Homo sapiens: one gene and its partners. Changing the gene in region 2 together with the main gene of any one other region gives a genetic interaction. Each region holds a gene or a part of one and is shown on either strand. Other genes may lie near its edges.

Region 1 (8,255 bases), on a different chromosome or scaffold from region 2:
AACACCTGAAAATTTATCGAAACAATTCAGCATTAATAACAGTAAACATATATCTGTATGTGTGTGTGTGTGAGTGTGTGGGAAGCAGGGTAAGAGAGGGAAGTGATATGAAACCTATGAAGCGAAAGCTATTAACAATTGGTGAATCTAGGTGAAAAGTATAGGAGTTCATTGTACTATTCTTGCAAATTTTCCATAATGTTATGCCTTGAAAATAGATACAGTAAAAATTTAAAAGAATATATGACAATTACACTGAACTTTAGGAAGACAGGAGGTTTTTTTTAATTATGGTAAAAAATACACATATTCTAAAATTTACCATCTTAACTATTTTTAAGTGGTACAGTTCACTAAGGAGTTATGTTTGCAACATTACCAGCAACTAGGCACAAACTTTGCATCTGTGTTTTCCTATACCATGAAACCTTTAGTTATCTGTTTGTTTGTTTGTTTGTTTATTTATTTATTAGTGATAAGGTCTTGCTATGTTTCCCAGGCTGGGCTTCAACTCCAGGGCTCAAGCAATCCTCTCACCTCAGACTCCCAAGTAGCTGGGACTATGCGTGCACAGCATTCAGCCCAGCTTGAGACCTTTCTCCTAAATGACAATCTAAGGATAAACCACAGGACATGTATAATGCTTATATTCAGCCATAGAGTACCGAGAGCAGTGTGCATCAGCTAAGAAATCTCAAGTCTACCACATGGATAGGATTTCGGTTACAATTACAATGTCAATTTCTGAAGGATCGATTAGCTGAATGGATTTGAGGACTATGGAAAATCTTACAGTCATGACACCCATTACTTATTGAGGTAAATAGAAACTTCATTTTGTTCAAATAAAGTTATATTTAGGTCCAAAGGTCCTAAATGTAATATTCCATAAATGAACCCCGTGAAGAACAAAGCACCAAATATAACATTGTTTGTGAATCACAGAAAATATACTGTCCCACACTGAGAATAAGGGAGTGGGAGGACAGCAATTAATGGGCATTGTTGTCAGTCAGATTCTAGAAATTTTTAACAGTGCATCCCTGGAATAATCCATGACCTCAGTTACATAAATGTTTTGTTTGAAAATATTTTATCTAGGAGAAATTATTTCTATCTCAATGTTAATCTCAGGATAATTCCTTTTTTGCTTTTTCTAACCATAAAAGGATTTAATCACCTCCTAAAAGCCACTTAGAAAATAACTAAACCAGCTACCTGTATGGCAGTATCCTCATTTATCCAGCTTTTATCAAATGTACCATATAAAAACATCAATCAAAGGAAACAGTGGCTGACATTCAGTGACTCGGTTTTTGGAGCTGCTCCTGCTCCTCTGAACTGGGTCTATTCTTGGGTCAGTACTAAGCTACCTTACAGTAAAGCCTTTGAGTTTTAAGCATTTTCAGCAAAATCATTTCCGTTTTTACAGCAACATAGATGGTAGGAAGACACAAACCTTGGAACAAAATACAAATTTTGTATTCACCAGTCAAGGGCTCTTGGATAAAACACAATCCCAGCGCCTCCATTTTCTCATTCATAAAGATGAGAACTTTTATCATAGTGAGGGATTTGCCTAAGCTAAGCTGCAAACTACATAGCCTCCTCGCTTTTCCAGTCAATTTCAGGCATTCTTTCCATTGTTTTCTTTCCTCCTCTTCCTCCTATGTGACAATGCCTAACACACACACACACACACGTGCACACACACACACACGAACACACACACACGCACACACCAGCAGACGTTCTTCTTCCCTTTCCCTCACCTTGACCTGCAGATGCTCCCTCATCCTCTCCCTCCTGAGCAGCTGCAGGATCCTGACGTTGAGTTGCTGGTTCCCCTTCTTCAGGTGTTGCTGGTTCCACTTCATCACTGAACTGCTCGGGCTGGGGAATACGTGTGGGTGTGCAAATAAAAAATAAGTTTCGTTATTGATACAAAATTTTACATATATACACAGAATACATAGCTATTTCTGGTCCTAACTAAGCCTAAAGACATTTCTCCAACTCTATGCTCTATGCCCAATAAGGTTACTCGACCCACAGGAAGGTTACTATGAGAAAAGTGACGCACGAGGACTTTGGAGGCTATTATACTCAGTGTTGGAATACATGTGTACAATCTGTCATTAACAAACAAAGCCTGAGAAAGAAGTCATGGGCAAAAGCTGAAGAACACTAGAGGAAAAAAAATTCTCCAGAATCAATGTTTCCTTCATGAGACGCCATCATCATTTTTTATGAGCAGGAAAGACCTTTATCAGCATTTCCATACTAATGCAACAATACTGTCACAAAAATTAATTTCTGCTAATAGAAAACAACGAATTAACGTTTAAGCACTCACCAGCATAGGCCCAATCATTTCAGGGGGCTCTACGTAGCGTCTTGGTCTAGGCCGATAGGTCGATCTTCCTCGCCAACTCATATTTCACACTGAAAACAGACAACCGTGATTGGGAACGTGCGCTCCACAGGGCTGCTATATTCGATCACCTCCATGGATAAATGTTAACTTGTCGTTTTAATTTTGAAAATACTTTCAAAATAAGTCCCAGAGTTAAGCATATGTGTGTACCTTTTCTGAGTGCCTACAAAGCCACTTATGCTGGCCAAGCTGGCAGAGCAATCATCTTAAGGCGTGTGACAAAACGCAGAGGACATTTTTTTTCTAAATTTCTTTTGGTCCCGCAGTCTCCCTGTGTTGCTCTGGCAGAGTGCAGCGGCGTGATCACAGCTCACTGCAGCATCGACCTCCTGCTCAAGGGATCCTCCCACCTCAGCGTCCCGAGTAACTGGGACTACAGGCGCAGGCCATGGCGCCCCACTGGCAGAGGTCATTTCTGATGAGGTTTAGTTTCACAAGTGGACTCCACATGAAAACATTAGTGAATCATAATTCTCGTGATTGCTACTTTGGGCACACTCCCACTTACTAGAGCCATTCACTTCTCTCAAATCAAGTTTGATTGGACCGCACAGCCTCTCCCAGTCCTTCCCACTGTTGCCAGACCTTCCATGGCGGAGGTGAGATCTTGCGATGCTTCTCACTCGGGGCTCCCCACTCCACAAAGCTCAGGGGCACTCACCAGCCCGCAGTCTTCCCAGGTGCCAGGTCCCTTCTTTATCGCCCTCCTCGCACCTGTCCGGGACCTCATTCAGGGATCTCCCCTGTATCGGGTATTCCTGGCACCTCCGGACTTCCATCCCTCTGACAGCACACCCAGCAATCGCCCCTTCTTCACCTGAGCCCCTGACCGCCTCCCCTCCATGGCCCACCTTCCTCCTTGTCCTGGCCCCTTCACGACCACAAAGCAGATGGTGGCCTCACAGCCTTTGAGAGAAGGAGGACGACCTCAAGGCCCTTCTCTTTCAGAGGCCAGGAGCCCCTTCCCTTTCAGAAGCCTCGAGGCCCTTCTCCCTCAGAGGCCACAGACCACGAAGCAGGACCCAACGGACTCACCCGAAGCACACTGCCTGCTCTTCACCCTCACTCACACTTCAGACCCCGGGAGGACTGGCCTGCAGACCTACCAGATGAATCTCAGTAGAGGAAAAATATTCCAGACGACAGGAACGAGACCACACACCCTCACAGCTCCCTGGCGTTCTCCACGTGGGTAAAGCGGCTGAGCAGAAGACGCCCAGTGGACATGCGCACTGAGGCGGGAGCCAAGGAGCATGTACAGCTGCGGGTTGGGGAAGGCTGCCGTTCCCAGCCCCACGCCCCCAACCCTCGATTCCCATCCCCACTGAGGATAATGGAATCTGACCTCCCTCTGCTGTTTCCTATGCCTCTGGGACTCAAGTAGTGCTCCCCTCAAAACTCACTCCATCTTCAACTAAACCCCCCTCCCCTCCAGGGCCCTCTCTTGCCCCGGCCCCACCATGGGGACAAGGACCACGGTGACTGCCTGAGAAGACAGGTAAACCACCTGCGAAAACAGAAATAGCAACCTACCCCAAAAAGAAATTGTTAAATGTGAACAAGTCAGAGAAAGAGACTGAAAGAAAAATGAATACAATCTCTAGGACCCATAAGAAAATACTAAAACGATATCTATCATTTGTAGCATCAGAATCACAGAAAGAGAAGTGCCAGTATTAGAGAAACAGGAGAGCCAGAGTGACACCATGTGAAAATCAACTCCATCTTGAAACTCGCAAGACACATTCCTTACCAGTCACAACCCATGGTCCTAAGATGTTTGGAGTTGAGAAAACAGACGAAAGGTACCTCCAAGGACATGCTCCCACAGCAGCAGAAAGTGCAGGGTTCTCAACACCCATAACAATATATGCTTTCAACATAATTATGCTTTCATGGACTTACACACTGGAAAGTCAAGGATAGTTTTCTTTAAATCAATAGAATGATAAATTTCATCATGCCCTTAGCACACCCTCACAAAGATACAGATAAGTTTAGTCTTTACATAGAGAAGACCCTTGTATAAGAAAAACTGGCCAGGCCAAGACTCATGCCTGTAGTACTAGTATTTTTGGAGGCTGAGCTGGGCAGATTGCCTGAGCTCAGGTGTTCGAGACCAGCCTAAGCAACATGAGAAAATCTCATCACTACAAAAAAAAAAAAAAAGAAGAAGAAAAATTAGCTGGGAATGGTTACATGTACCTATAGTCACAGCTACTTAGAAGCCTGAGGTGGGAGGATCACTTGAGCCAAGAAGGTCAAGGATGCAGTGAGCTCTGATAACACCACTGCACTCCAGCCTGGGTGATAGAATGAGACCCTGTCTCGATTTTTAAAAATAGAAGATAAAAATGTACAAAGTTATCAATCTAATTCACTACATTAACAGATGAATGGGAAAAAAATGCTGTTATAAACAAAATAGATGCACTGATGAAACTCAACATATATTCAAATGAATACTCTCAGCAAATTTGGAACAGAATGGAATGACTTACTCTGATAAAGTCCATCTACAAAAAAAGGACAGTAAATAGGATGGTGAAATGTTGAAATTTTTCGGTTTCTCATCAGGGATAAGACAAGGATATTGACTGTCACCATTTTAACAGGTGGGTCTGCACAATGCCATAAAATCAGAAAAGGAAATAAAACTCTTTACAATGGCAACAACAGGCCCGGCACGGTGGCCCACGTCAGTAATCTCAGCACTGTGGGAGGTGAGGCGGGTGCATCACTTGCACTCAAAAGTTCAAGAACAGCCCGGGAAACATGGCAAAACCCCGTCTCTACAAAAAATACAAAAGGAAAAAGAAAAAAAAAATGGCAGAAACAAAATTGTTCTTATTCAAGGATGGTATGATTCTGTATGTTGAAGACTGAAAACCATCTAGAAGTAAACTTTTAGAATTCATAAGCATATTTCACAAGGCTGCTGGATAGAAAATCAATATATAAGAATTATGTCTCGCCCGGGCGCGGTGGCTCACGCCTGTAATCCCAACACTTTGGGAGGCCGAGGTGGGTGGATCACGAGGTCAGGAGTTCAAGAGCACCCCGGCCAAGATGGCGAAACCCCGTCTCTACTAAAAATACAAAATCTGGCTGGGTAGGTGGTGGGCTCCTGTAATCCCAGCTACTCGGGAGGCTGAGGCAGAAATTGCTTGCATCCAGGAGGCGGGGGTTGCAGTGAGCAGAGATCACACCACTGCACTCTAGCCTAAGCAACAGAGTGAGACTCTGTCTGGAAAGAGAAAAAAAGAAAAAAAAAAAAGGAATGATGTCTCTGCATACCAGCTGAAACAGTTAGAATATAAAATTTCAAAGAATGATACATATTTCACAGCATCAGAAAGCTAGAAATAAAATTCACAAAAGATGCGCAAGACTACTTTGCAGAAGGCTGTAAAGCTTTATTGGGAGAATTTTAATGAACAAATTTCCAACATAGGAGCAGCCTGCATCATTTCAGCTTGTCTTCTTTTAACTCCGTGATTGCTTTTCACCTGTAACAGAAACATAACAACTGGGAACATTACTTAACAGCAGTTTATTTATATGATTCTAAAGGCATGTAAAGCATACTACAGTTTGGGTTTTATTAAATAGACAAAAAAACAGAACCCTAAAGGTGATCCTGTGTCTTACATCCAATTAAACCTCTGTATACACTTTGAGGGTAGACCTCCAGAATTTAAAGGTAATTTCTTACCTATACATCAAGTACCTCCTTTAAATTCAGAAGCACTTATAATGAATGGTCAGCAATTTGGAAAACACATATGTAAAACATATTTCAGTTGATTACTCAGGAAGTACTAAAGTCATGGTCTTTGAACTTCAAATCTTATCAACTCATGTCTCAAAATCTGAAACTTACGTGTAACATTTGATATGGTTAGAGGTGATTATATCACTCTATCCACAGTCTTATTAGAAACAGTGGCTCATGCAGACTGACTGTGGGGCAGGGAGCATGCTTAGCACAAGCATCTTACTCACACCCATCCTGAGCATCACTGACCTTCATGCCACAGAAAATAGAAACTAAACAATCTATCACCTTTTGATTATTCACTCACTCAAGGTTTCCTTTGTGAAAGATTTAAAAAGCAATTATTTATTAAGAGCCAGAGAATCCCATCCTGGGCAACATAGTGAGACCTCATCTCTACAAAACTTATATCAAAAAAACAAAATTAATCGGGCCACGGTGGCTTGTGCCTATAGTTCCAGCTACTCAAGAGGCTGAGATGGGATGATCGCTTGAGCCTGGGAGTCAGAGGGTGCAGTGAGCTGAAGTTGTACCACTGCACTCCCGCCTGGGTGACAGAGTGAGACTCTGTCTTAAAAAAAAAAAAAAAAAAAAAAAAAAAAAACAGCAGCAATAGCAAGATGGCCAAATAGTAATACCTCTGGTCTGCAGCTCCCAGTGAGATCAAGGCAGAAGGTGGGTGATTTCTGCATTTCCAGCTGAGGTACCCGGCTCATCTCACTGGGACTCATTAGACAGTGGGTGCAGCCCATGGAAGGCAAGCCGAAGTAGAGTGGGGCACTGCCTTACCGGGGAAGCAGTAGGGGTCGGGGAACTCCTTCCCCTAGCCAAGGGAAGTTATGAGGAACTGTGCTGTGATGAACGGTGCATCCAGGCCCAGATACTATGCTTTTCCCATGGTCTTCTCAACCCACAGACCAGGAGATTCCCTCCTGTGCCTATGCCACCAGGGCCCTAGGTTTCAAACACAAAACTGGGCAACCGTTTGGGCAGATATGGAGCTTGCTGCAGGAGTTGTTTTTCATACCCCAGTGGTGCCTGGAATGCCAGCAAGACAGAACCGTTCACTCCACTGGAAAGGGGGCTAAAGCCAGGGAGCCATGTGGTCTAGCTGAGCAGGTCCCACCACCACGGAGCCCAGCAAACTAAGATCCACTGACTTGAAATTCTCACTGCCAGCACAGCAGTCTGAAGTTGACCTGGGATGCTCAAGCTTGGTGGGGGGAGGGGCGTTTGTCATTACTGAGGCTTGAGTAGGCAGTTTTCCCCTCACATTATGAACAAAGCCTCCGGGAAGTTCAAACTGGGCAGAGCCCACGGCCGCTTGGCAAACCCGCTGTAGCCAGACTGCCTCTCTAGATTCCACCTCTCTGGGAAGGGCATCTCTGAAAGAAAGGCAGCAGCCCCAGGCAGGGGCTTATAGATAAAACTCCCATCTTTCTGGGACAGAGCACCTGGGGGAAGGGGCGGCTGTGGGCACAGCTTCAGCAGACTTAAATGTTCCTGCCTGCTGGCTCTCAAGAGAGCAGCGGATCTCCCAGCACAGCGCTCAAGCTCTGCTAAGGGATAGACTGCCTCCTCAAGTGGGTCCCTGACCCCCATGCCTCCTGACTGGGAGACACCTTCAAGCAGGGGCTGACACATACCTCATATACAAGAGCTCCGGCTGGCATCTGGCAGGTGCCCCTCTGGGACGAAGCTTCCCAGAGGAAGGAAAAGGCAGCAATCTTTGCTGTTCTGCAGCCTCTGCTGGTGATACCCAGGCAAACAGGGTCTGGAGTGGAACTCCAACAAACTCCAGCAGACCTGCAGCAGAGGGGCCTGACTGTTAGAAGGAAAACTAACAAACAGAAAGGAGTAGTATCAACATCAACAAAAAGGACATCCACACAGAAACCCCATCTGAAGGTCACCAACATCAAAGACCAAAGGGAGATAAATCCACAAAGATGAGGAAAATCCAGCACAAAAAGGCTGAAAATTGCAAAACCCAGAATGCATCTTCTCCTCCAAAGGATCACAACTCCTTGCCAGCAAGGA
Region 2 (4,785 bases):
GGGGGCAGGAAGGGCTTCCCCGGCCGGGAGCGCAGGGACGTCTAAGTCTGCAGCCACCGCTAGTCTGGTGGCAGCTGCTCCCAGGAGGGTGGGGCTCCCGCCCTGCCATCTCAAAAGGGGGCGGGGCTCCCACTAGCTCCACGGAGCGCACAGCCCCTGTGGCTCCCACACTGCAGCTGGCATCTTTGCAGTGGCCACTCCAGATGGGCCGCTGCTGCCATTAAAAGGACTGGTAATCTAAGGGAGTTTATGGTGACCTGGTACTAGGCAAAGGATTAAAACTATAAAGGAAGGCACAAATGATGCTATTAGGTCACACTGAGGTGCCAGGCATTGATCTACATGATGTATATGTTTATGTTCTATATTTCTATATTTCTAAGCTACGTATATATTTAATTCATCTAATTATTCCAGCAACTCTATAAAAGAGATGCCATTAGTGTCCCATTTTTCAGAAAAGGAAACTGAGGCTAGAGAAGTTGAGTTACTTGCCCCAATGACACAGCTAAGGCCAGGTGAAAAGAGAATTCCAACCTGGGCTGACCGGTTCCAGATCCCTTGTCCCTCACCACTACATGCAACAGGAGGTGGAGGAGAAAGAAGAGGCAGAATTTGGTGGCACCTGTCGTGTAAGCGGAGGTGGGCGGGGCGGGGGCACAAACCAAGTTCATAAGCCTACAGGATGGAGGGTGCTAAGCTTCAAAGGACAAAGAGGGCTGGTCGCCATGGCTCACACCTGTAATCCCAGCACTTTAGGAGGCTGAGGCAAGAGGACTGTTTGAGGCCAAGAATTTGTGACCAGCCTGCACAGCATAGCAAGACACTATCTCTACAAAAAATTTTAAAAATTAGCTGGGCGTGGTGGCCTGTGCTTGTAGTCCCAGCCACTCAGGAGGCTGAGGTGGGAGGATCGCTTGAGGCCAGGAGTTTCAGGCTGCAGTGAGCTGTGATCTCACCACTCCACTCCAGCCTGGGAGACAGGGTGAGACCCTGTCACTAAAACATTAAATAAACAAACAAATAAATAAAAATAAAATGAAGGGGACTGTGGGGACAAGAGTAACTTTATTGAAAATACTAATCCTCCATGTTACTTCTGACTGGCCCTGAGTCTGGGAAGGCCGCCAAAGTGTCTAGGTGATGTATTACTCTTTATGGTAGAACACCTATTCATTATAAACTTCCCCCAATACAACCCCTGTTGTTGCAGAAATCTTAGGCTGTGACAACCATAGCTGCCTACACATTCCTTGTATCTTGGGGTAAAAGCACACGTGCTCTGGAAGGAATGTGTAGGTGGCTATGGGTGCACAATTTCAGGGGGTTCGTGAACTCCAGTTAAGACTTGCCCTAATTATACCATGTAAATAATTCAATAATGGGCAATTCTGTAGTAGAAATTTTATTCCCACCCATAAAATATATCACTAAATAGCTGAAAAATTTACATATTATTTTAAAACATAGACTTAAAAAATCATATTAGCTTCTCCTTAGCAAAATGCTTTTGTTTTATGTATTTACAAGAATATACTGTACTTCAGGTACACAATTCACTCAAGCCAGCCTGAGAAGGCCTTGGATGCAGATCAATGCTCCAATAAAGTTCATTATCAGCTCCTCCTGCCTTGTGACAGGATGATTTGATTTTACAAAAGTCCCTTTGAAAACAAGAGTAAACGCAGACAGCTTCTAGAGAAAAGTCTGGTGAAGCAGCAGTTGATAATAGATTTTCTTTTAGTGATGAAATTAATCTTGTTTTGGTAATCTACAGCCTGTTAGGGATAGGTGGAGGGATGAAGTCCTTAAAACTAAATTGTTCCTCTACGAATCTTCGACCTGAGCCTGCGGAGAGAGTAGCCCCAAATCCATCTCTCTGCTGAAAGGTCGCCTGTTTTGGTAGGTGTGAGGACATTCCGAAACACGGCCATCCACATTCTGATACATCTGAATGTGGGAAAGAGACAGAACACTGATTACCATCTGATGTAGATGCACATGTTATGCGCCCATATTACAAATTATTTAAATAAAAACAGTTGTTCTATATAGACAATTACTTTTTTGTTTGTTTGTTGTTTGTTTGTTTATTTTTTGAGACAGAGTCTCGCTCTGTTGCCCAGACTGGAGTGCAGTGGTACAACCATAGTTCACCGTGGCCTTGATGTTCTGGGTTTGAGCAATCCTCCCACCTTAACCTCCTGAGTAGCTGGGACCACAAGCAGGCTCCACCACACCCTGCTAATTTTTTTATTTTTTGTAAAGACAAAGTCTCACTATGTTGTCCAGGGTGGTCTCAAACTCCTGGGCTCAAGTGATCCCACACCACCCCGGCCTCCCAAAGTGCTGCGATTACAGGTGTGAGCCACTACGCCCGGCCTAGACATCACTTTTAAAATGTTTAAACTGATATATAATAGATGTACATATTTTCAGGAAACGTGTAGACAAGTACTTTTATTATGCATAGGTCTCAGAGGATATTCTATATAACTAAAAAAGCAATTTTGGTCCTTTTATTAATGGAGAAATCAAATCATAGTCAAATATTTTATTTCATTATTGAGTCTACTCTCAGATATAAAATGTCACCCTAGAAATCCTAAAACCATGCAGAAAAATCATAAAAGAGAAAGGCCACAAAAGGAAATCTGTTCATTATGGAGTTAATACAAGGGACTGATTCTTGAGTTTTCCCTTGGAGTTTCACGACTTTTAAATATTTTTTTCTGAAATGAAGAGATTTACTTTCCTTTCCCAAATATGAAGTTAACATGCATTCATATAGATAATTTGAGAAATACAGAAAGAGACGTAGAAGGCCGGGCGCAGTGGCTCATGCCTGTAATCCCAGCACTTTGGGATGCCGAGGCGGGCGGATCACCTGGGGTTGGGAGTTCAGGACCAGCCTAGCCAACGTGGAGAAACCCTGTCTCTACTAAAAATACAAAACTAGCCGGGCATGGCGGCGCGCGCCTGCAGTCCCAGCTACTTGGGAGGCTAAGGCAGGAGAATTGCTTGAACCTGGGAGGTGGAGGCTGCAGTGAGCCTAGATTGTGCCACTGCACTCCAGCCTGGGTGACAGAGCAAGACTCCATCTCAAAAAAAAGAAAAAAGGCTACAAGTCATGACAAGTACCCGCCATTATAGACAGCTTGCTATGCACACACAATTTTGTGTCTGTGGGCTCAGGCTATATATTCTATTTTGGAACCTTATTTTGAATTATCAATATATTGTTATTATACTGCTCATATGTTGCCTGTGTCACATATTTACATTATTCACTAAGGATGGCCACATATTTTTTTTTCACGGCAGCCTAGAGTTCCATAGTACTGATGCATCATAATTAACCTTTTGACCAACTGGTTATACGAAACAAACTGAAAAGTGCACACTCAATCTAGTCTGACGTTGGGATAAGCAGAAGTGGAATTGCTGGATCAAAAAGGATGCACACTTGAACTGTGATACACAAGGCCAGGCTGCCCTGCAGAAAGGTTGTATTTATTTCTACTCCTATCAACGGTGCCTGGAAACTATATTTTCCAGAGCCTTCTGAACAATGGGTATGTCAGCCTCCCACATCTCTTCTCTTTTGCTGAGCAAGAAGTTCTATCTCCTTAACTATATATGTTTCACTATCTGCAAAGTTGGGCCTTTTTCCTATACTTTATGTCCATTTGTTTTCATTTTGAATAGCCTGCCTATTTCCTTTGCCTTTTATGTATATAAAAGGCTATACAGGCTGGGTGTACTGGCTCAACTCTGTAATCCTAGCACTTTGGGAGGCCGGGGCGGGAGGATTGCTTGAGGCCAAGAGTTCAAGACCAAACTAACCAACATAGCAAGATCCTGTCTCTAAAAGAAATAAGTTTTTAAAAGGTGATACATTTTTATTATTATTTGTTTATAAGAACTTTATGATTTAGGAATCATGCATTCTATTTAAATTTTATAGATTTGTTCCGTTCCCACAGCCCTTGTTACTGTCTACTTCTTTTTCTTTGTTTTTGACAGTTTTAATGTGAACTGTCCAGACTGCCTCCTACACTTCACTTTTCTTTCTAGAAAATTGTGTGTGTGTGTGTGTGTGTGTGTGTGTGTGTGTATCCTTTGACCCAAAATATATCCATTGTGAACCAGGTGTTGCACAATGACAGCTTTGCTTGTACCCTGAAGGATGAACAGTAACTACTCATGCGTGCCTTTTGTGAAGTAGACATAGCAGTTAGTTAGCATTTGTTGAACCTGTTGAATCCAAATGTACATCTCTACCACTGAATTTCTAACCACCTCATGAAGTTTGTGTAGCACAAATACCAATAACACTTCCAATCTTCCACCTGAATTAACTAACATGTGCTCTTCATCCAGTCTCACTGTCTAGAAGTTTCTAGAACCATCTCTGACAATCTCTCTCCACTCCCATAGCTAGTTACTGGGTATAGTTGTAATACATCACTCTTTTCCATTTCTTTAAGTGACCTTTCTTTCCTTTTTTTTTTTTTTTTTTGTTGTTGCTGTTGCTGTTGTGACAGAGTCTCACTCTGTTGCCCAGGCTGGAGTGTTGTGGCATGATCTCAGCTCACAGCAACCTCTGCCTCTCAGGTTCAAGCAATTCTTGTGCCTCAAGTAGCTGGGACTACAGGTGTGTACCACCACACCTGGCTAATTTTTATATTTTTTTAGTAGAGACAGGGTTTCACCATGTTGACCAGGCTGGTCTTGCACTCCTGGCCTCAAGTGATCCACCCACCTAGGCCTCCCAAAGTGCTG
Region 3 (8,763 bases), on a different chromosome or scaffold from region 2:
TATTCTCTGGCTCTTTTATTGTTATTTCATAGTATTCTTTTCCTTTAACATGTAACGTGCTATTTATTTTAATAAGACGTGCATTTAAAGCTATGATCTCCCTAAGAATACAACTGAGGCTTGTTCAGTGGGCTCCTGGAAATCGTCTGAGAACTATCTTTTAATGTAAATAGTATAATGGAATGGTTCAGCAGGGTACAGTAAAAACACTTAGGTAATTTCTCCCTTAAACATGGGGTGCTTCCTTTAACTTCAAGAGGTATTGTAATTAACAGTCACCAATTTGGAAAATATGTGTAAAACATACTTGTGTCAACTACTCAGGAACTAGCACAGTGCTGTTGTTGAACTTCAAACCCTATCATCTAATGCCTCAAGGCAGAAACCTGTAATATGTAACCTATGGTATGGTTAGAGGTGACTCTACTATATGAGTCTTCAATCTAATTACACGAAGTAGTTCATGAAGACTGACGGGAGGGCAGGGAGCATGCTTAGCAGAAGCATCTTACACCCACCTTGGGCATCACTGACCTACATGCATTCTCTCTACTTCACTGGCCACAGAAACCTGATGATCTCCTGCCATTTTATCATTCAGTCATTCAAGGCTTCACTGCGGGAAGGCTTTAAAATGCAATTATTCTTTAAGAGACAGAGAACTCAGAATTTGGCAAAATACAAGAACACTCATACAGGGCTCCACACAGGAAAACAAACACCAAGCAGAGTGCCCGCTCATTTTCCTAGGAACCATGAAATCTCAACTCAGACACTATAATTGGACTGAAGCTGATTGTTATGATAAACAAATCATGAAGATCAGAATATCTTGGTCTTCTATCCAACAGAACCAGAGCATGTGGAAATTAGCAACGAAATGGATTTTAATCTATCTGATGTGCATCCACTCTTTTCACTAAGAGCAAGGATGCCTGTGGAATTTATACGATTCATCCAGACTCTCACAAATTATGGTAGAGCTGGTACTAGAATCTGCTTCAGGGCTCAGCATACTTCACACAAACTGGTATTACAAATGCATTATGTGTTTGTTAAAAGCAGAAATTAGAAAAGAATCTGAAAATTGTTAGCTGTTGGTTATACACCAAACTAAGAAAATGCTGTCACGTTTGATGATTCAATATGGCTTTGACCCAATTTGTTTCTGTATCTGATAGTGTTTAAGTCTTGCAATCTGGCATTTGGGTCTGAACGACGTTTCAAAGAACATTTGCATTTGCACTGTGTTTTTAAAGTAGCACTAATGTTATCCCTCTATTATCAAAAGTATAATACTGTGTAAATGAGAAAGCACATAACTTTGCATCTTGCTGGATAACATACCTGCTTCTGGCATTTTACAGTGTTCCTCTTTAGGTATTATCTTCACCTTGACGCCGGAACCCAAATCCAGATTTATCCCCGGTGTTTGACTGATGCAGCTCTTGCAGATCACCTTCCATGTCGCGCACTTCAAAATACAAAGGTTATCGATTTAAGCATTCCAACATGAAATATAAATAAGGAAATGATAATATTCTCTTCCTTCGCGTTACGAAATAAAGCCTGAGCCAGGCGTAGTGGTTCATGCCTGTAATCTCAGCACTTTGGGAGGCCGAGGTCGCTTGAACCCAAGAGCTGGAGGTGGCAGTGAGCCAAGATCATGCCACAACAATCCACACTGCGTGACAGATGAGCCTCTGCCACATAATAAAAAAATGTACATTTCTATACACCAAATTAAATGGTTTCAAGTGATTTAGTAAGGACTGTATTTTCAAGCATACAAAATCCATCTCGAAGAACAAGAGAAGATTCATTATATCCAGGGACAGCATGAAGCTGCAAACTATACTCTCCCTTTTCCAGCCAACTTTGAGCAAATGTTTGGTATCTTTTCCTAATGTTCTCTTTGCTCCTGTTACTGCTCATGGCATAGGCCACAATGCACACATAGACCTTCTCCCGCCCCATAGACATACTTTCCCTTCCCAGCACCTGGGATCTCAGCTGTATCCTGATCTTCTTCTGTCTGCTGCCCAGGTGTAGGATCCCGACTTTCAGCTGCTGGTTCTTCTTTTTGGGGCTCTCCATTACTGGGCTCCTGGGACTGGCTGTGTGGTTCTGTGTTTGTGTGTGTCTAGATAAAAAGTTTTGTTATTAATACATGTCAATAATATAAATATACAGAATACACAGGTATGTCTTATTATAAGTATGTCTAGAGACATTTCTCCAACACTACCCCGTATACCTAATCTTCATAACACTATTCTTCCCTCAGAGAGGTTACTCAAAGACAGATATCCTCAGGGACTTTGGAAGCCGTTTTAATCAATGTTGGGATGAATGTGTGTAATCTGTTCTGAATAAGCATGAGGAGGAAGTTATGGACAAAATCTGGGCACACACGATCATCCACCCACACAAAACCCAAATATAACCCTCTGGACTAATCTTTCCTTCATGGGATGCCATGATCATTTTTTATCAGCATGGGAGACCATTATCAGTGTATCCATACTAGTCCATCAACACTATCAGAAAAATAACTTTCTGCTAAGAGAAAACATCGAATGTTAAGACATTCACAAGCAGAGGCACAATGAGCTCAGGAGGTTGTGAACTTCTTGGCATAGGCCTATATGTTGATCGTCCTCATCAACACATACTTCACTCTGCAAGCAGAATACTGCGATTGGGAAAATGCACTTGACAGGACAACTAGATTTGACCGCTTTCATGGTCAAATGTTAACTTGGACATTTTTTTTTTTTTTAATTTAGAAATACTCTGAAAGTCCCCGGGCAAGTATAAGTGTATGCACCTTTTGAATCGAATGCTTGCAAAGCCACTTAAGTAGGTCTAGCTAGCTGAGCGATGTCTTAAGGCTCCTGGCAAAAAACACAGGGCATTTCCCATGAGGTTGGTTTCACAACTGGACACTCCATCAGGGAGACAAGTAGGAAATTACAGCTACAGAACTGAAACTGCAGTGACCACCAATTTTGTCACATAATGATTTGCTAGGCCCACTTCCCCCCCACCCCAAAGTCACATTTTTAGGAACTCAGGGCCCCGCCCATTGGAATCTCCACAGTGGAGTTGAGAATTTGCTACACAGCAGTGGGCACTCCTCACAGGACCCCTATGCCAGGCACTCTACAGACCTCGGGGCTGCGGTCACTAGCCCGCAGCATGCCCCGTCTCCAGGACCCTTCCATACCGCTCATGCCGTCCCTCTCCTGGTCCCGTCTGGGGAGTCCAGAATCTTCTGTCGGGGTTCCAGGTGCTTCTGGGACTCGGATACCCCCAACAGCACCCCAGCTTCGCCTGAGCCCCTCCACTCCTCGGCCCTCCTTCCTCCCTAGTTATGGCCGTGACGAGACAAGAAGGTCCATGGGCGTGGCACCGCATGAGAGGGACGACGACTTCGAGGGCCTTCTCACTCTGAGTCACTGACCACACAACCCTCCGGAAGCCTGCTGGTTCCTCTTCACTCTCACTCACACTTCAACTCCCAGTTGGATCTGCCTGTGGACCTACCCGCCGTGTCTCAGTAGCGGAGAAAGAATCCAGACCTCAGGGACCCGAGTCGCCGGCTCACAGCTCCGCCGCGTTCCCCACACTGGCGAAGGGGCCGATGGGAAGACGCCCAGTGAACATGCGCACTGAGGTGGGCACCAAAGGAGCATGCGCAGTGAGGTTCCCTCGTGCCTTAAGGGCTGTGGTGCCCCTCCTTATCCCGCCTTGCCCTGTCCTATGCTCCTTCCCAGGTCCCCATTAACGACTTTGGAATCCCTCCTCTCTGTGTGTGGGTTCCCCCCCACCAGGACTCAAATACCTCAAATAAAGTCAGCCTTCAAAACTCACTCCATGACCGGGCGCGGTGGCTCACGCCTGTAATCCCAGCACTTTGGGGGGCGGAGGCGGGTGGATCATGTGGCCAAGAGATCGAGACCATCCTCGCCAACATGGTTAAAACCCGTCTCTACTGAAAAATACAAAAATTAGCTGGGTGTGGTTGTGCGCGCCTGTACTCCCAGCTACTCGGGAGGCTGAGGCAGGAGAATCACTTGAACCCGGGAGGCGGAGGTTACAGTGAGCCGAGATTGCGCCACTGCACTCCAGCCTGGTGACAGAGCAAGACTCCGTGAAAAAAAAAAAAAAACTCACTCCATGCTCACCTGACCCTCCTCCCCGCTATGGCCCTCCTTCGTCCCATGCCCGGGACCCCACAACAGCAAGGCCATGGCAGTATCGCTGAGTTTTAGTAGAAAGATGACGACCTCAGAGGCCATGGACCAAGTGGCACAACCCACAGGAAGCCCCCCACGCTCCCCCTCACACTCACTCACACTTCACTTTCTGGGAGGACTGATCTGCAGACCTACTGGCTAAGTCATAGTCAGCACGAAAGAAGGAAGTCACGACGTCTCCTTTCACAGTTGTGGAGGGACAGAAGTTAGAGAGCAAGGCGCATAGGCAGCAAGGAACTTTCATAGAAAGGGACATGCACATTGAGCCAGGGACTTTTCAGGGCAGGGTAGGGTTTTCCGCTGTTCCCAGACCCGCATCCCCATGGCGTTTGTAGTAGAAAAAGGGACTTGAGAGCTTTCGTCTCTCTTTGTCCAATCTCATGCATTCAGAAACGTTGGGAACAGACAGTCCCTTACTGGAGGATGTGTCTCAGGAAGACCTTTTGTGGAAGAAATAAATTATTTTCATATCTTTATTTATAAAGCCGTTTTTATTTATTTTTTTTTCCAGACAGAGTGTCACTCTGTTGCTCAGGCTGGAGGGCAGTGGCATGACCATACCTCACTGAAGCCTCCATCTCCTGGGCTCAAACAATCCTCCCGATGTAGCCTCCCCAGTCCCTGCTACTACAGGTGCAGACACCACACCTGGGTAATTGGTTTATTTATTATTTATTTATTTTTTAGATAGTGGTCTCACTGTGTTGCCCATGCTGGTCTCAATTTCCTGGGCTCAAGTGATCCTCCCACCTTGGCCAGTTTTATAAATGCTTTTATTAATCACTTTGTTCTCTGGTTCTGGGTTTTCTGCCATGCTTCCAATAAACGTAATTGAATAAATTCTTCTGTAGAATAAATACATTCACACCTGTTTACTCTTTTCTTTTTAGGTTGTGTTACTTCACATTTAAATCTCTGGACTGGTAACTGATTTCCCTGAATATACCTGTAGGTCATTCAGACAGTATATGTTTCAGAAATAGCCATAGATTCTGACTGTAGGCTCTAGGCTCAGTTATGACCAGAAAACAAGTCCTGCCAGTCTCCTACCTCAAATGTATGTTTGTGTATTGACCTGATCCCTGGGACAAGTTTCCCAGACTGAAATCATGGTATCATAAAGCTGGACGCTTTCTTGAGGGGATAGAGTAACATCCATATTTTCAATCCGTGTGTAAATAAATTAATTAATGGATGAAAAGATGTATGCAATAATGCAAAGCAGAATAACAGGTATTTGATTAATACGGCATCACCAAATTTTGCTTTAACAGATCTGATCGTAATTATTTCAGTCTTTGTGGGTCATGTAGTTTCTGTGGCGTAGTGTTGTGTTTTTTAGCAATAATACTTTTAAATGGAAAAAAATCCTTATCTCAATGGCTATGCAAAACAAGCCATGGGCTGTATTTAGATCTCAAGCCATAGTCAGCTAGCCCCTGGATTATCTTTTACTTCACATATTTGAATGCTGTATTTTTGTACCAGTAGTCAAAAGATTAACAAAGGAGAGTTCTACCACCAGGTAAGATTTAGAAAGCCTCAAGAGAAAGTCACTTTAGCCTTGAAAATGAAAAACAGCCTAATAATCTATAACGTTATCTTTTGTTTTGCTTTGTTTTTAGATCATGAGAGACCTGAGGTAACAAGGCAGCCATGGGAACTGATCCAAAATGGTGACTTAGTCCCTCTGAGGAGGGATGAGACAAACAAACTGCATCACCTGTGGCAGAGCATGTGTGGAAGAAGTGACAGCCATAACAGGGGGTAAGAAGAAAACCAGTGAAAATGTAGCAAATTCATAAAGTTCGAACACAGGCATTTGAGAGAGCTGGAATCCTGGCAAGTCTCAGACACCAGCGGAATTCACGTTCACAGACAGAAAGACATCCTGTCTCAAAAAACAGAGTCAGAGTCTATAAGGCTGGATAAAAAGCAAGAACAAAAATAACAGACGCTGGTGAGTTTGTGCAGAAAAGGCAACGCTTATACCCTGTTGGTTGGAGTATAAATTAGTTCAACCATTGTGGAAAGGAGTGTGGCAATTCCTCACGGACTTAAGAACAGAAATACCATTTGGCCCTGCAATCCCATTGCTGGGACTATACCCAAAGGTACATAAACCTTTCTATTATAAAGACGCATGCACATGTATGATCATTGTAGCACTACTCACAATAGCAAAGACATGGGATCAACCTAAATGCCCATCAATAACAGACTGCACTTTTTAAAATGTGGTACATATACACCATGGAGTACTATGCAGCCATAAAAAACAGTGAGATCATGTCCTTTCCAGGAACACGGATGGAGCTGGAGGCCATTATCCTTAGCAAACTAATGCAGGAGCAGAAAACCCAATACCACATGAAGTCACTTATAAATGGGAGCTAATTGCTGAGAACACATGGACACCCAGAGAGGGCCAACACGCTGGGGCTTATCAGAGGGTAGAGGCTGGGAGGAGGGAGAGGATCAACAAAATAACTAATGGGCACTGGCCTTACTACCTGGGTGATGAAATAATCTGTACAACAAACCCCATGACATGAGTTTACCTATATTACAAACCTGCACATGCACCCTGAACCCAAAATAAAAGTTAAAAGAAAACTCGAAAATAATTGTGAACTCTTCTGATCTTTCTACTTTACAAATATCAGTTCACTTCTTTTTATAAAAGGTAGGAAAGAAGGAAGGGAGTGAGGCATGAAGGGAGCCAGGGAGGAAGGGAGAAAATAAGGACAAATGGAGCGAGGGAGGGAGGGTGGAAAGAAGTAAAGGAGGGAGGGAGGGAGGCAGGAAGGGAGGCAGGAAGGAAGGAAGGAAGGAAGGAAGGAAGAGAAAAATAGGGCTGAACAAACGTTTCTGTCCCTAGCCAAACAGCTCTTGATGGGAAGGCACTTTTAGAAACTTGAGTGAAAAGTAACATAAATCAGAGGATTTGAATCATCTTCATTTACAGCCCTTCAAAAGTTATTCTGGCTGTTGTTTCTGAGCGATTCAAACCTGCCTTGGTCTCCATTAAATCCACATATTCTTCAGAAGGGCAACTCTTCCCTGGATTAACAGCTCAGCGGAGGACCAACACAAACTGGTTAGTCTAGGAAGAAAAAGAAAAGAAAAGTGCAGGAGACCAACATTTCCTCCCCCGTGGTTTTTTTTGTTTTTTTTTTTGTTTTGTTTTGTTTTTTTTTTTTACATCTCCTCCTCAATCTACAGAGGGATATTTGAATCTCCACATTTCAAAGCTAAGAGAGCTCTGAGAGATCATTTTATATAGTTGTTTCTCAAAGGATTTTTAGCAAAAGAACACCTTCGTGAAATGAAATTTTACCCAAAACCCTACTGTAGAAAATAGGGGGATAAAATTATATTTTTCATATAAATATACCACTTTAATGTGAAGATATCTTTCTATGAAGGCTGTCAAAGAGTTTGATTGAGGTTCTTTTGAAGAGCCGAGCAGATTATTCTGTGGATTTCTGCGTAACATTTTAGTTGTATATTAACTTCTGCATCTAATTTTTCGGTACTTTTATTGTTGTTGCACAGTTGCAAGAGGATCTTGATTTTCACAGTATATTTATCAGTAATCTGTATCTTGAAAAAAAGAGCCCCACTCTACAAATAAATAAGATACAAGTAAAAGATGGAAAAAGATATTTCCTGCAAATATGAATCACATAAACTCAAAGTGTGAAATTAGTATCTCACAAAGCACACTTTATAGTGGAGATTACTACAAGGGACAAAGTGGGACATTACATAATAATCATAGAGAGGTGCATTGATTCAGAAGACAGAAACACCACGGATATGTAGGCAACTTCAAAATACTTGAGGGACAACTGATACATCATCACAAAGAAGAAATAAACACATGTGCCTTTAGTAGAAGACTTCCCCATTACTCCCAGCATTTGGTAGAAAAAGTGTACAAAAAATCAGGATATATAAATGCAGAAGGCTTGAACAACACTATCAGACAGCATGGCCTAATTGATATTCATAGATCAACAGCAGAATGCACATTCTTCTCAAGTGCTCATAGAATGTTCACCAAGATAGACCATATTGTGGGCCAAAAAACAAATCTCAACAAATTCAAAAGGAATGAAATGTTATAAAACATGTTCTATGACCAAAAAAAGAATTGAAATGGAAATTAGTTGTAGAAAGATGTCTGCAACTCATGAAATCTTGGAAATTAAATGTCACATTTAAGTAACTCAGAGATCAAAGAAGAAATTGCAGGAAAAAATTTTAAAATGAAAACTCAACTTATCAAACTTTGCAAGATGAAACTAAAGCATAGAGGGAAATTTATACCCTTCAATACTTATGCCAGAAAGGAAGAAAAGTCTCAAATCAATTATCTAGGTTTCCACATTAAGAAACTAGAAAAATGAAATCAAATTATACCCAAAGTCAGAAGGAAAACTGTTAGACCGTGCACAGTGGCTCATGCCTGTAATCCCAGCACTCTTGGAGGCTG

What was found. Genes that interact genetically often act in the same process or in processes that back each other up.
Region 1: changes in FLT3 (region 2) and GAGE10 together harm fitness less than expected from each alone (positive genetic interaction), as found in Homo sapiens cells (one study listed by BioGRID).
Region 3: changes in FLT3 (region 2) and XAGE1A together harm fitness less than expected from each alone (positive genetic interaction), as found in Homo sapiens cells (one study listed by BioGRID).

What each region holds. Positions count from the first base shown.
Region 1 is NC_000023.11:49,299,042-49,307,296, reverse strand, and holds the start of GAGE10 (G antigen 10), read right to left. Parts: upstream 3,652-8,255; 5' UTR 3,544-3,651; intron 2,446-3,543; 5' UTR 2,438-2,445; coding exon 2,357-2,437; intron 1,933-2,356; coding exon of another isoform or gene 1,894-1,932; coding exon 1,773-1,893; intron 1-1,772.
Region 2 is NC_000013.11:28,002,225-28,007,009, forward strand, and holds the end of FLT3 (receptor-type tyrosine-protein kinase FLT3 precursor), read right to left. Parts: intron 1,951-4,785; coding exon 1,828-1,950; 3' UTR 1,050-1,827; downstream 1-1,049. UniProt on the Homo sapiens protein: Tyrosine-protein kinase that acts as a cell-surface receptor for the cytokine FLT3LG and regulates differentiation, proliferation and survival of hematopoietic progenitor cells and of dendritic cells.
Region 3 is NC_000023.11:52,490,696-52,499,458, reverse strand, and holds the start of XAGE1A (X antigen family member 1), read right to left. Parts: upstream 3,652-8,763; 5' UTR 3,550-3,651; exon of another isoform or gene 3,421-3,549; coding exon of another isoform or gene 3,230-3,420; intron 2,144-3,229; coding exon of another isoform or gene 2,098-2,143; coding exon 2,002-2,097; coding exon of another isoform or gene 1,986-2,001; intron 1,475-1,985; coding exon 1,348-1,474; intron 1-1,347.